Homo sapiens: one gene and its partners. The protein of the gene in region 1 purifies or fractionates together with the protein of each later gene. This does not show direct contact. Each region holds a gene or a part of one and is shown in the gene's direction. Other genes may lie near its edges.

Evidence for each region. The genes of interacting proteins can lie anywhere in the genome.
Region 2: the proteins of ARHGAP19 (region 1) and RNF41 purify together in Homo sapiens (affinity purification with mass spectrometry; 2 studies listed by BioGRID and IntAct, with this or other methods). This does not show direct contact.
Region 3: the proteins of ARHGAP19 (region 1) and LRP2 purify together in Homo sapiens (affinity purification with mass spectrometry; 2 studies listed by BioGRID and IntAct, with this or other methods). This does not show direct contact.
Region 4: the proteins of ARHGAP19 (region 1) and CBY1 purify together in Homo sapiens (affinity purification with mass spectrometry; one large-scale study listed by BioGRID and IntAct). This does not show direct contact.

What each region holds. Positions count from the first base shown.
Region 1 is NC_000010.11:97,282,638-97,286,137, reverse strand, and holds part of ARHGAP19 (rho GTPase-activating protein 19), read left to right. Parts: intron 1-3,500. UniProt on the Homo sapiens protein: GTPase activator for the Rho-type GTPases by converting them to an inactive GDP-bound state.
Region 2 is NC_000012.12:56,211,923-56,215,422, reverse strand, and holds part of RNF41 (E3 ubiquitin-protein ligase NRDP1), read left to right. Parts: intron 1-1,352; 5' UTR 1,353-1,375; coding exon 1,376-1,465; intron 1,466-2,284; exon of another isoform or gene 2,285-2,427; intron 2,428-3,500. UniProt on the Homo sapiens protein: Acts as E3 ubiquitin-protein ligase and regulates the degradation of target proteins. Polyubiquitinates MYD88. Negatively regulates MYD88-dependent production of pro-inflammatory cytokines.
Region 3 is NC_000002.12:169,128,535-169,132,034, reverse strand, and holds part of LRP2 (low-density lipoprotein receptor-related protein 2 precursor), read left to right. Parts: intron 1-2,950; coding exon 2,951-3,022; intron 3,023-3,204; coding exon 3,205-3,372; 3' UTR 3,373-3,500. UniProt on the Homo sapiens protein: Multiligand endocytic receptor. Acts together with CUBN to mediate endocytosis of high-density lipoproteins. Mediates receptor-mediated uptake of polybasic drugs such as aprotinin, aminoglycosides and polymyxin B.
Region 4 is NC_000022.11:38,663,138-38,666,637, forward strand, and holds part of CBY1 (protein chibby homolog 1), read left to right. Parts: intron 1-2,408; exon of another isoform or gene 2,409-2,548; intron 2,549-3,500. UniProt on the Homo sapiens protein: Inhibits the Wnt/Wingless pathway by binding to CTNNB1/beta-catenin and inhibiting beta-catenin-mediated transcriptional activation through competition with TCF/LEF transcription factors.

The sequences.
Region 1 (3,500 bases):
TATCTGAAGGGTAATGAGGAGTAGATTTCTTCAGGGGATTTTCTTGAATCTGGTTTTATTTTACATTTTATCAATGATCAGGTTTAGAGAGTTTGATCATATTTGTAAATAAGGCCTGTCTTGGAAGGAGGGGAAGGAAGAAAACAGAATTTTAAAATTAATCTGCATAAACTGGTAAGTGGCATGAAACCACAGCATAAAGCAAAGCAGATATTGTTGCACAAGTTTACTTTGGTCAGAACAATTGGGTCGGTAGTGTTATAAAGAGTGATATAGGAAATCTGTAAACTTTTTGCTGTAAACATTACATTTGGCTTAGGCCAAGCATGGTGGCTCACGCCTGTAATCGCAGCACTTTGGGAGGCCGAGGCGGGCAGATCACTTGAGGTCAGGAGTTCGAGACTAGCCTGGCCAACATGGTGAAACCCTGTCTCTACTAAAAATATAAAATTAGCTGGGTGTGTGGCGGTTGCCTATAATCCCAGCTACTAGGGAGGCTGAGGCAGGATAATTGCTTGAACCTGGGAGCTGGAGGTTGCAGTGAGCCGAGATTGTGCCACTATACTCCAGCCTGGGCAACAGAGGGAGAGACTCTGTCTCAAAAAAAAAAAAAAAAAAGCAAAAAAAAAAAGAGAAAATTATCTAGGTATGGTGGCACATACCCGCAGTCCCAGCTACTTGGGAGGCTGAAGCAGGAGGATCACTTGAGCTCAAGAGTTTGAGGCTGCAATAAGCTAGAATGCCGCCACTACACTCTGGCCTGGGTGACTGAGACCCTGTTGTTAAAAAAAATAAATAAAAATAAATTTGTTTTAAAAAATTGTATTAAAAAACATAACAGTTTATCATCTTACCTATTAAGTGTGTAGTTAATTAATGTTAACTACATTCGCATTGTTCTGTGTCCAGCCATTTTTTATATGGAACATCTACAACCTACAAATCCATTGAAGCTTTAAGAGTATATACTTTCGGCCTTGCACAGTGTCTCATGCCTGTAATCCCAGCACTTTGGGAGGCGGAGGCGGGCGGATCACCTGAGGTCAGGAGTTTAAGACCAGCCTGGCCAGCATGGTGAAACCCCGTCTCTACTAAAAATACAAAAAATTAGCTGGGTGCAGTGGCATGCACCTGTAATCGCAGCTACTTGGGAGGCTGAGGTAGGAGAATCGCTTGAACCTGGGAGGCGGAGGTTGTGGTGAGCTAAGATCACACCATTGCACTCCAGCCTGGGCGACACAGCGAGACTCAGTCTCACAGGAAAAAAAAAAAAAAAAAAAAAGTATATGCTTTTTTTTCTTTCTTTCTTTTTTGTTAAGAGTATATAGTTTGGCTAAAAGTGGTGGCTCTCATCTGTAATCCTACCACTTTGGGAGGCTGAGGTGGTAGGATCACTTGAGCCCAGGAGTTTGAGACCAGCCTGGGCAACCTAGCAAGACATTGTCTCTACTAAAAATAAAAATAGTTAGCCAGGCGTGGTGGCACATGCCTCTGGTCTCAGCTGCTAGGAAGGCCGAGGCAGGAGGATTGCTTGAGCCTGGGAGGTCAAGGATGCACTGAACCGTGAGTATGCCACCATTCTAGCATGGGCAATAGAACAAGACCTTGCCTCAAAAAACCCCCAGTATATACTTTTTTCCCCTCTTCCCCACTATGAAATAAACTTATATAATATTTACTACAGAAGGCTAGAAAAATATGTAGAAAAAAATGGGGGCTGGTCTGAGTGTCTCACGCCTATAATCCCAGCACTTTGGGAGGCCAAGGTGGGCAGAACACTTGAGGTCAGTAGTTCGAGACCAGCCTGGCCAACATGGTGAAACCCTGTCTCTACTAAAAAGACAAAAATTAGCTGGGCATGGTGTCGCACATCTGTAATCCCAGCTACTTAAGAGGCTGAGGCAAGAGAATCGCTTGAACCTGGGAGGCAGAAGTTGCAGTGAGCCAAGATTGCACCACTGTACTCCAGCTTGGGCAACAGAGTGAGACAATGTCTCAAAAACAAAAAGCAAAAAATACAAATAAAAATAAGAGAAAAAAGCTAGGTGTGGTGGTGTGCACCTGTAGTCCCAGCTACTGGGGAGGATGAGGTGGGAAGATTGCTTGAACCTAGGAGCTTAAGGCTGCAGTGAGCTATGATGACACCACTGTGCTCCAGCCTGGGTGCCAGAGTGAGACCCTGTCTCTAAAAAAAAGAAAAAAAAAGGAAAGAAAAATATGTAGAAAAATGGTAAACTAGCCACTCCAATTTACCAGATAGATACAACCATTATTAATATTGAGACAGTTTTTTTTTTTTTTTTTTTAATAGAGATGAAGTTTCACTATGTTGTCTAGGCGGTCTCAAACTCTTGGGCTCATGTACTCCTCCCACCTTGGCAACCCAAAGTGCTGGGATTACAGGTGTGAGCCACCATGTCTGGTTCCTTCTGAGTCTTAAACTGTAATGCCTCTTATCTAAAATATGACCCATCCAAGATCTGATTTCTATCTTGGTTTCCCAGTTTCCTCCCAATAAGTGCATCATTTCTGGTTGGAAACAGTATAGCAAAAGAGTGATTGAAATACAATTTTTTTTTTTTTTGAGACAGAGTCTCACTCTGTTGCCCAGGCCGGAGTGCAGTGGCATGATCTCAGCTTGCTGCAGCCTCCGTCTCCTGGGTTCAAGCAGTTCTCCTGCCTCGGCCTCCCGAGTAGCTGGGACTACAGGCATGCGCCACCATGCTGGCTAATTTTTGTATTTTTAGTAGAGACGGGGTATCACCATGTTGGCCAGGTTGGTCTCGAACTCTTGACCTCATGATCCACCCACCTCAGCCTCCTGAAGATGCCCTCTGGTCACCTTCAGTGAACACTCTCACCTACACTTTTACTAACCATCTTTTAGGGTGGGTTGTTTCTACAGATGCTGGAGCCTATTTATTTTGTGCTGATGTTTTGCTACTGTTACCCGATATAAACTAAATTCAGCTAGGCCATAGAAACTACATAGTAACAGCCGGGCGGGTGGCTCACGCCTGTAATCCCAGCACTTTGGGAGGCTGAGGTGGGTGGATTGCCTGAGGTCAGGAGTTCAAGACCAGCCTGGCCAATATGGTGAAACCCCGTCTCTACTAAAAATACAAAAATTAGCCAGGCGTGGTGGCAGACGCCTGTAATCCCAGCTACTTGGGAGGCTGGGGCAGGAGAATCGCTTGAACCTGGGAGGTGGAGGTTGCAGTAAGCCGAGATCGCACCACTGCACTCCAGCCTGGGCGACCAGAGTGAGACTCTGTCTCAAAAAAAAAAAAAAAAAAAAGAAAAAAGAAACTACATAGTACTTTAAACAGAGAACATTTAATAGGTTATAAACTATAACTGGGGATTCGAGTAACAAGGAATTGGCTAGTAAGAAGTAAAGAGATCTCTAAGAAATATAGAAATAGATACAGGAATCAGCTGAGTTAGAATGTACAAGGAAGAGGGTCCCTAGGGCAGAGTTCCAGACCTTGCTGGAGATG
Region 2 (3,500 bases), on another chromosome or scaffold:
ATCCCCATCACCACCACCACCTAAGTTCAGACTCTTACCGTCACTCTCCTGACTTAGATGTTCTTCCGGTCTCCAGTTTCTCCCCTGTTAACATACTGATTCTAAAATGGAACTATTATCACATTGTTTTTTAAGTCCTTCAGTGGCTCTCTCATACCCTTCAGAATAAAGTCCAAAATCCTCACAGACTTTTCACAGCATGGCCCTTGCTTGCCTCTCCAGCCTTGTCTCTTGACAGGCCCTCCCTCCCACCTCTCAGGTCAGCCTTTTCTTGAATCACTTGAAATTCTCTGAACCTATCATATGCCCTCTTCTGGGCATTTGGATGTGCTATTTTATGTGCATAACACCCTAATGCCCTGCTCCCCCAACATTTAGCTGACTCTTGCCCTACAGGACACGTTTCTGGTGACGCCCAGTCCTGGAAAACTTGTCAAAACCACCCTCTGCTTTCAGCCTGGGTTAGGTATTCATGTCTCTTGTCCTCATAAGGTCCTGTCTCTACTCTGAGTATTTATCACTTTATATTTTAAATGTGTGCTTATATAATGTCTTCCCCCATTAGAATTACATTTCTTTTTTTCTTTTTTTTTTAAGGCAGAGTCTTACTCTGTTGCCTAGGCTAGAGAGCTGTGGTGCAATCTCGGCTCACTGCAGCCTCTGCCTCCTGGGTTCAAGTGATTCTTGTGCCTCAGCCTTCCAAGTAGCTGGGATTACAGATGTGCATCACCACGCCCAGCTAATTTTTGTATTTTTAGTAGAGCTGGGTTTTCATCATGTTGGCCAGGCTGGTCTTGAACTCCTGACCTCAGCTCATCTGCCTGTCCCGGCCTCCCAAAGTGCTGGGATTACAGGCGTGAGCCACTGTGCCAGGCCTTAGAATTAATTTTTTTTTTTTTTTTAGAGACTGAGGCTCGCTGTGTTCCCCAGGCTGGAGTGCAGTGGCGCGATCTCGGCTCACTGCAACCTCTGCCTCCTGGGTTCAAATGCTTCTCCTGCCTCAGCCTCCCGAGTAGCTGGGATTACAGATGCGCATACCACACCCAGCTAATTTTTGTATTTTTAGTAGAGACAGGGTTTCACCATGTTGGCCAGGCTGGTCTTGAACTCCTGACCTCAGGTGATCCGCCTGCCTCGGCCTCCCAAAGTGTTGGGATTACAGGCGTGATCCACTGCACCTGGCCAGAATTAAATTTCTTGAGTCAGCTTCCACCGAGCCAAATGACTGCTGCATAGTAGACTCCCAGTAAATATTTGTTGGATAAATGAATGGATCTTGGCAATGAGTGTATGTTTGTCACATATTTGTAGGCTTCTTCTGAACTGGCCTCTTTTTCCTGTTGTCCTTTCAGGACCTGGGTTTCAGTGATGAGACATGGGGTATGATGTAACCCGTTTCCAGGGGGATGTTGACGAAGATCTTATCTGCCCTATTTGCAGTGGAGTCTTGGAGGAGCCAGTACAGGTGAGTTGGTCTGATGGCAGGTTTGGTGGGGCAACAGGTAGCAGTGGAACTAGTAGAAAATATTCATGGGCAGCGGGACCCATGGTGAAGTCACTGTGTTCTTCTCTCCACCCTCACCCAATAGAGATTTAGGTCAAAGGAGTAATGGTGACTACAAGAATAAGGCCTTCCAGAATCAATCTAGAGGTGGATGCCACAGAGATCCAGTGGTTCAGATTTTTTTCTGAGGTCACTCTGAAAGATTTCTCCTGTAAAACAGTCAGCTGCTTGTTTCTGTCTTGTGATAGTAGCTGGGTAGCTTCCTTTCCTCTACAGGAACTCTTACTAGGTTCCATCTTCCTGTCCGTGATTGAACTTCTGGACTCTCCTAATAAGTTCTCTCTGCATTTTTATGATGTAGTGCTTCAGGTAATCAGCCAGGCTCCCTGCAGGCCTCTTCTACCTGCCTACTGTCTAACAAATAGGAAGGCTGGGCACAGTGGCTCACACCTGTAATCCCAGCACTTTGGGAGGCCAAGGTGGGTGGATCACGAGTTCAAGAGCCATCCTGGCCAACATGGTGAAACCCCGTCTCTACTAAAAATACAAAAATTAGCTGGGCGTGGTGGCACACACCTGTAGTCCCAGCTACTCAGGAGGCTAGACAGGAGAATTGCTTGAACCCGGGAGTAGGAGGTTGCAGTGAGCCGAGATTGTGCCACTGCACTCCAGCCTGGGTGACAGAGTGAGACTCCATCTCAAAAAAAAAAAAACAAAAACAAATAGGAAGTGGGGAACTGTATGTACTGACCTATTTTTTTCCTGGGATCTACTGAAAAGACCAGCTTTTGATACAGCCATGCACTCTGCATTTTGATGTGAAAGCTGCCACCTTCAATAGGTCATTTCTCTGCCAGCCTTGCCAGACCAGAGTCAGTTGTATCATCCTGGGGCAAGTATGAGGAGAAGCTCACGATTACCAGGCAAGTACAATGAGTGAGGTGAATCCTTAAGAGTTGTATTCATGGGACAGCATCCTCCAGGATCCTTATTGCCCTCATTCTGTAAATACCAATTAATCCTTTCTCTTTCCTGGCTATCTAGAGATTATCACATTTTCCAAACCAGGACACTAGGCAATGAGGTTTCATGGCCCTTCCCCCATTCACTGCTCACCTAACTCCCAGGGGCTCCCCTTGAGCCTTTATTTTTTCTCCCAGTACTACTCCAAAAGGAGTACTGATGCCTTGAGCTGAATAAAATTCAGACTGCATTCCAATGGCAACCAACTCTGGACCTGTCTTCTTTCTAGGCCTTTGCAGTCTGCTGCCATTAGAGGCATATTAGATGGGTGTGGAGCAAGTCATCAAGTAGTAGTGTCAAGAGGTCACAGGGTGTGTCAGGTTCCCTCCTCACCCTGGCAGGGCCTTGTCTGTTTTCTGGCACTATCATTTTAGGCAAGTCACTTATGGAAAGGTGAGTCGTAGTTGGTGACAGTCTAGTCAGAAGCCACCCATCTACCTCCAGGCTTTATCTTCTGAGGAGCAGAGCAGGCAACCCTCATGATGCCAGGTTCCCAGACACATTTCTAAGGTTAGAAGGCTCCTGCTAGGGATGCTGATTTCCCCACATCATAATTATTTATTTTTTGAATAGGTGAAAAATGAACATAGTTCAGAAATCAAAAGGTATACAGTGAGAATTCTCACTTCTGTCTTTATTACTGTGCACCTAATTCCCCCACAGATAACTATTTTTATTAGTTTATTTGGTATCCTTCCAGTGTGTCTTAAGGCAGATATAAGCAAATATGAATAGATGTCTGCATATATATGTATTTGTGTATACATATGTATATATGAATATATCTGTGTTTCACCATGTTGGCCAGTCTGGTCTTGAACTGATCTCAAGTGATCTGCCTGCCTTGGCCTCCCAAAGTGCTGGGATTACAGGCATGAGCCACCATGCCCGGCCTTATTTAGCTTTGTTTTGTTTTGTTTTTTTGAGATGGAGTCTCACACTTTAGCCTAGGCTGGAGTGCAGTGGCATGATC
Region 3 (3,500 bases), on another chromosome or scaffold:
TGGTGTTTAATACTGGAGATTGAAAGAAAAAAATGCCACTAGATGGAGCTTCTTAAACATGCCTGCAGGTCCTTTGCAATTGGTACACTATTTGGTCTGCAGGAAGAAATTCAATAAATATATTTGATATTAAACTCTGTATTAATGTATATCATTAGTTTTAATGAATGCATTTGCAGCTATACCAGATATAGCTGTTTGAATCTGGACAAACTGTTTTACTTCTGGGGCTAGAGTCCTCAATAATATTTCTCACTGGGGGCGCTATTGGCATATTGAGTGGGACAGTTCTTTGTGCTACAAAACTGTCCTATGCACTCAGGGAATTTCAGTATTTCTGGTCCCTGTCCACTAAATTCCAGTAGTGTCTCCCCTAATTCAGTGTGACCCCAGAAATCACCTCCCCTCCCCAACACATGTGCACTCACTCCTGGTTGAGAACCGCTAGGATCTGGAATGTCTCTGTTCTAAGATTCTATGACCAATTTTGTGAAGTAATGTAAAGAAATGAAAGTCTAAGAGTAGTTGGAAATTTTACCATTTTATACAATCTTTATTTCTCAAATTTCATAGTCTATAAACATTGATATCTTGGTAACTTGGCAGTCTCATTATCACCTTAAACATTGGTTTCTGTTCTGCTGATTTAAATCAAAATAAAATTTGACCTAAATTGATGCTGAGAAGAGTCTATATCAAGGCTTCTGTACACCTTCTCAAATTCCCTTATTTCTTCTTCTCATGTCACACACACACACACACACACACACACACACACACTCATACACTCACAGACATACATAAATATTGTCTAGAAAGGAATTTTCAGTTTCAGATTTTTCAAGGGACTAAACATTTTTTCTTTAAGCTATATTAAAAATGGATTTTGAAGATTAATTTTCCACAGACACACGGATGCTTGAATGTCATATATTTGGTCCTCCAAGCCTGAGTCAACCCCAAGCTAGTGCCAGATTTATTTTATATTTTCAACATTTTTTCTCAGTCCATCTCTAGTCTAGTGATCTTCTTCACTAAATAGACATTTTCCCCAGCTGGTGCAGGAAGGGGACTGTGGTGGGGAGGCTGTAACCTCTGATCTGCATGTCTGTTATCAGAAACAAAATGTAAACTGACAGTCTCTTTCAAAGGAGAGCAGATCTTCACCAATTGTAGTCCTTTCTTTCTCTTCCCTTTTGTAATACCTTGGTTCCTCCTCTTACTTTTTTACATTAGTGAGGCTGAGACCCTCTAAAATGTGTCTTCCATGTTATGTCCAGGGATCTCACTGTATTTCTTCCCTCCTGGGCACTGAGTTAACAGCCAGCATGCTTTAAAAGCAGTAGAGGCGCTTGGGTGAGATCACCTAGGTTGATTTGAATATGCCAGAGTCCCACAAATGTATCTTTCATCCATAAATATGTTGAAAGACTAACAATTAAAAACATGGGCTGGGCACGGTGGCTCACACCTGTAATCCCAGCTCTTTGGGAGGCCGAGGTGGGTGGATCATGACATCAGGAGTTCAAGACCAACCTGGCCAACATAGTGAAACCCCATCTCTACTAAAAATGCAAAAATTAGCTGAGTGTGGTGGCATATGCCTGTAGTCCCAGCTATTCAGGAGGCTGAGGTGGGAGGATTGCTTGAACCCGGGAGGCAGAGGTTGTAGTGGGCCGAGACTGTGACACTGCACTCCAGCCTAGGCGACAGAGTGAGACTTCATCTCAAAAAAAAAAAAAAAAAGATTCAGTTCTATCATTTTCCAAAAGTTACATTGATATGCATAGGATCCCCCAAGGAGACAAAAATGAAAGTCACCGTCCCTTTCCTCTTGTTAGTAATTGCTTAACTTCAAGTTAGCCATTTCATTTTGAAGCAATGACATCTAAGAGACTTTGGCCCGCCCCACTTAACTGTAAGCGCCCAGAGGCAGGGCTCTGACCTGAATGTCTTCATGTTCCCCTTGGGGGCACTATGTACAAAGCAGGTTCTCACTTGAATGTGGGTTAAAGTGAAGACCTCTTCTACTTCTGTAGCCCTGTGTTCCCCACTCCTCCACAGGCTGGTCCCCTGCTGTCACAGAGTAAGAGACACCCCATAAAACCTGTGGGCTCCCTCAGCTCCTGTTGAGAGTAGGCTGTCTGTTCCCTTGTCTCCCACCAGGTTTTTATCTGGCAGTCAGCATGACAGGCAACTTTTCAGTAAAGCGTGGGCCACGCACCATGGTCCAGGGTGATTATCTTTGGGTTCTCCAGTTTATGGGCCTCTGGGTCCCCTGAGTAATCATTACCTGCCCTTCTACCTGCAAGTTAGTTGTATAATCTTGCTGTGACTCAGCAAGTATAGGATAATAAGTGTACCTACCTCTGGGGTTTGTTAAAAAAAATCAGAAACTTGTAAAACTCTTAGAATAGTTCCTGACACATAGTAAGCACTCAATAAATGTTAGATGTTTTTGTTATTATTATTGTGACACAGGAGGGAATGATGAAGGGAGAAGGGATACTCTTGAGTTGACCAAAGAATGTTACTTTAGGGAATAAGAGTTACAGTTTGGCTTTGCCATCTCCACCCAATTTTCAGGCAGCCCCAGAAATCTCTTTTTCTCCAGATGCATCTTGTGCATGTCTGTTTTATGTGTTCTCTCTGTACTGAGGTAACCAGGTGATTTGCTTGTAGATACTATGGCACAAATTCTATAATATATAAATTTGAAGTCAAAGAAGTGTTTAAAACCATTCGATTAAAAGAGCCCAGAGTTTCAGTTACTGTTCAGGGACCATAGGAGGAATTGAACAATTTACCATATGGGCTGAATCACATGGTCCCAGGTCCCAAATTGCTTTACCCTTCAGTAAGAAGAAATTTTAAAACTGAGACAGGAGGAAAAGAAACCCACAAAATAATTCCATTACTGAGAGGTTTTTGTTTTCCCCTTTTCATTTAGGTGACAAAATGGAATCTCTTCAAACGAAAATCTAAACAAACTACCAACTTTGAAAATCCAATCTATGCACAGGTAATTTTTAACAATTTTTCTTAGCACAGACATTTTTTCTTAGAAATTATTTGCTTGGTTAAATTGGACACACACTTAGATTATTCTGAGCAGAGTGGCCACAAATAGTCTTCTTTATGAAAAACCGTGTATGGTGACCTTGGGGGAATAAATGGCTGATTCCTGTTACATTGTATTCTTAGATGGAGAACGAGCAAAAGGAAAGTGTTGCTGCGACACCACCTCCATCACCTTCGCTCCCTGCTAAGCCTAAGCCTCCTTCGAGAAGAGACCCAACTCCAACCTATTCTGCAACAGAAGACACTTTTAAAGACACCGCAAATCTTGTTAAAGAAGACTCTGAAGTATAGCTATACCAGCTATTTAGGGAATAATTAGAAACACACTTTTGCACATATATTTTTTACAAACAGATGAAAAAAGTTAACATTCAGTACTTTATGAAAAAAATATATTTTTCCCTGTTTGCCTATAGTTG
Region 4 (3,500 bases), on another chromosome or scaffold:
AATAAATAATTGGATTTCATTATAATTAAGAACTTCTGGCTGGGAGCTGTGGCTCACACCTGTAATCTCAGCACTTTGGGAGGCCGAGGCAGGTGGATCACGAGGTCAAGAGATTGAGACCATCCTGGCCAACATGGTGAAACCCCGTCTCTACTAAAAATACACAAATTAGCTGGATGTGGTGGTGCGTGCCTATAGTCCTAGCTACCTGGGAGGCTGAAGCAGGAGAATCGCTTGAACCCGGGAGGCGGAGGTTGCATTAAGAAAGCAAAAAGAGGCCGGACGCGGTGGCCCACACCTGTAATCCCAGCACTTTGGGAGGCTGAGGTGGGTGGATCACCTGAGGTTGGGAGTTCGAGACCAGCCTGACCAACATAGAGAAACCCTGTCTCTACTAAAAATACAAAAATTAGCCGGGCGTGGTGGCGCATGCCTGTAATCTCAGCTACTTGGGAAGCTGAGGCAGGAGAATCACTTGAACCCGGGAGGTGGAGGTTGCGGTGTGCTGAGATGGCGCCATTGCACTTCAGCCTGGGCCACAAGAGCGAAACTCTGTCTCCAAAAAAAAAAAAAAAAAAGGAAAAAAAAAGAAAGCAAAAAGAGGTCGGGCGCAGTGGCTCATGACTGTAATTCCAGCACTTTAGGAGGCGGAGGTGGGTGGATCACTTGAGGTCAGGAGTTCGAGACCAGCCTGGCCAACATGGCAAAACCCCATCTCTACTAAAAACACAAAAATTAGCTGGGTTTAGTGGCAGGTGTGTGTAATCCCAGCTACTTGGGAGGTTGAGACAGGAGAATCTCTTGAACCTGGGAGGCAGAGGTTGCAGTGAGCCAAGATAGCACCACTGCACTCCAGCCTGGGTGACAGAGCGAGACTGTGTTTCAAAAAAAAAAAAGAAGGAGAAAGCAAAAAGAAAAAAGTGGGAGAAGATATTTTCAGTACTGTACATATATACAGTAGTGAAACTTGTATCCAGCGTATATAAATACCCTTACAAACCCTTACAAAATGAACATGATAGACAGCTCAATTTTAAAAAATGGCAAAAGAGGGCTGGGCGCGGTGGCTCATGCCTATAATCCTAGCACTTTGGGAGGCTGTGGCGGGCAGATTGCTTGAGGTCAGGAGTTCGAGACAAGCCTGGCCAGCATAGCGAAACCCTGTCTCTATTAAAAATACAAAAATTAGCTGGGCATGGTGGTGTGTTCCTGTAATCCCAGTTACTCGGGAGGCTGAGGCAGGAGAATCACTTGAACCTGGGAGGCAGAGGTTGCAGTGAGCTGAGATTGTGCCACTGCACTCCAGCCCGATGACAGAGGGAGACTCCATCTCAAAAAAAAAAAAAAAAAGCAAAATACATGAATAAGCATGCCACAAAAAAATCCATATATGTCCAAGGAGTATGTTAAATGATGCTCAACTTAATTAGTTATTTGGGAAAAGCAAATTAAACAATGCAACACCATTACATACCTGCCAGAATGGAAAAGATGAAAAAGAAAGTGCCAGATATTGACAAGGATCTCTTGCAAACTACAGATAGGAGTCTAAATTGGTACAATGACTTTGGAAAACCATTTGGCAGAATCTGTTAAAGCTAAATATATGAATGCTCTGTGACTCTATAGTTATACCCCTAAGTATGGAACCAGAAAAGTGTACATATGCATGTAGATATACATGCTCAAGTCTTATGTTCTTAGCAGTAGTTTTTTTTTTTCTTGAGACAGGGTCTTGCTCTGTTGCCCAGACTGAAGTGTGCAGTGGTGATCACAGCTCACTGCAGCCTCAAACTCCTGGGCTGAAGCAATCCTTCCACCTCAGCCTCCTGAGTAGCTAGGACTACAAGGGTACACCACCACGCCTGGCTGATTTTTCAATTTTTTGTAGAGATGAGGTCTCATTATGTTGCCTAGGCTGGTCTTGAACTCCTGGCATCAAGTGATCCTCCTGTCTTGGCCTCCCAAAGTGCTAGGATTACTGGCATAAGCCACCATGCCTGGCCTAGCAGCACTATTTTTGGTGGTCAAAAACTGGAAACAGGCCGGGTGTGGTGGTTCATACCTGTAATTCCAGCATTTTGGGAGGCTGAGGCAGGCAGATCACGTGAGCCCAAGAGTTCAAGACCAGACTAGGCAACATGACGAAACTCCCATCTCTATTAAAAATGCAGAAAATTAGCCAGCATGGTGGTGCGTGCCTATAGTCCCAGCTACCCATGAGGCTGAGATGGGAGGATCACCTGAGCCTGGGAGGTTGAGGCTACAGTGAACAGAGATGGTACCACTGCACTCCAACCTGGGGGACCAGAACGAGACCCTGTCTCAAGAAACACAAAACAAAACTGCAAACAGCTCAAATGTCCATCTTCTGTAGACAAGTAAATTTTGCTGTGTTTATACAATAGAATATTATCCAGCAATGCAAATGAACAAACTATAACTACACACAGCTGCATGGATAAATGTCAGAAACATGACGTTGAGTGTGAGAAGCCAGATGCAAACGAGGACTCACTGTGCAATTCTGTGCATGTACAGTGGCCAGGTGAGGCTTATGGAGTGCTGAAATGCTCTGTATCCCAATCTGGAGGGTGGTTTTAAAAAAATGTTTTGAGCCAGTGCGTTGGTTCACACCTGTAATTCCAGCACTTTGGGAGGCCAAGGTGGGCAGGTCACTTGAGGTCAGGAGTTCGAGACCAGCCTGGCCAACATGGTAAAACCCTGTCTCTACTAAAAATACAAAAATTAGCTGGGCATGGTGGCACACACCTGTAATCCCAGCTATTTACAAGGCTGAGGCACAGAGCAGGGCTCTGTCTCAAAAAAAAAAATCATAAATAAAAAATAAAATTTAAAAAATACTTGATTTTAATTTTTTTAGAGATGGGGGTCTCGCTGTGTCACTCAGGCTGGTCTTGAACTCTTGGGCTCAAGCAATCCTCTCACCTTGGCCTCCCAAAGTGCTGGGATTTCAGGTATAAACCACCACGCCTGGCCCTGGAGGGTGGTTATACTTGTGTAGTAAAAACTCATGAAACCTTACACTTATGATTTGTGGTAGACTTTTCTGTATTAATGTTATATATATATATATTTTTTTTTCTTTTTTAACCTTTTTTTGGTAGAGACGGGCCCTGCTAAGTTGCCCAGGCTGGTCTTGAACTCCTGTGCTCAAGTAATCCTCCCTCCCTGGCCTCCCAAAGTGCTAGGATTACAGGTGTGAGCCACTGCTCCCAGCCTAAATAAAAAGTTTGCTTCTCCCCTCCTTTTCTCCCCAAAAACCAGGGTGTTATCAGGAAATCTACTTAACTAGGCCTAGGTGAATTGCAATAGGTTGCATTATGCTAAAAGCAAATGTACAGGTTGGGGGGGTGTTGTTGTCAGCTCCGCCATGTCGTGGACCTGCCCCCTTTTCAGGACACCTCACGTCACCTTCCATAACAGAACAGGTAACGTGACATATGAGGTGCACTGTTGACAAGTGACACTGGTGACAA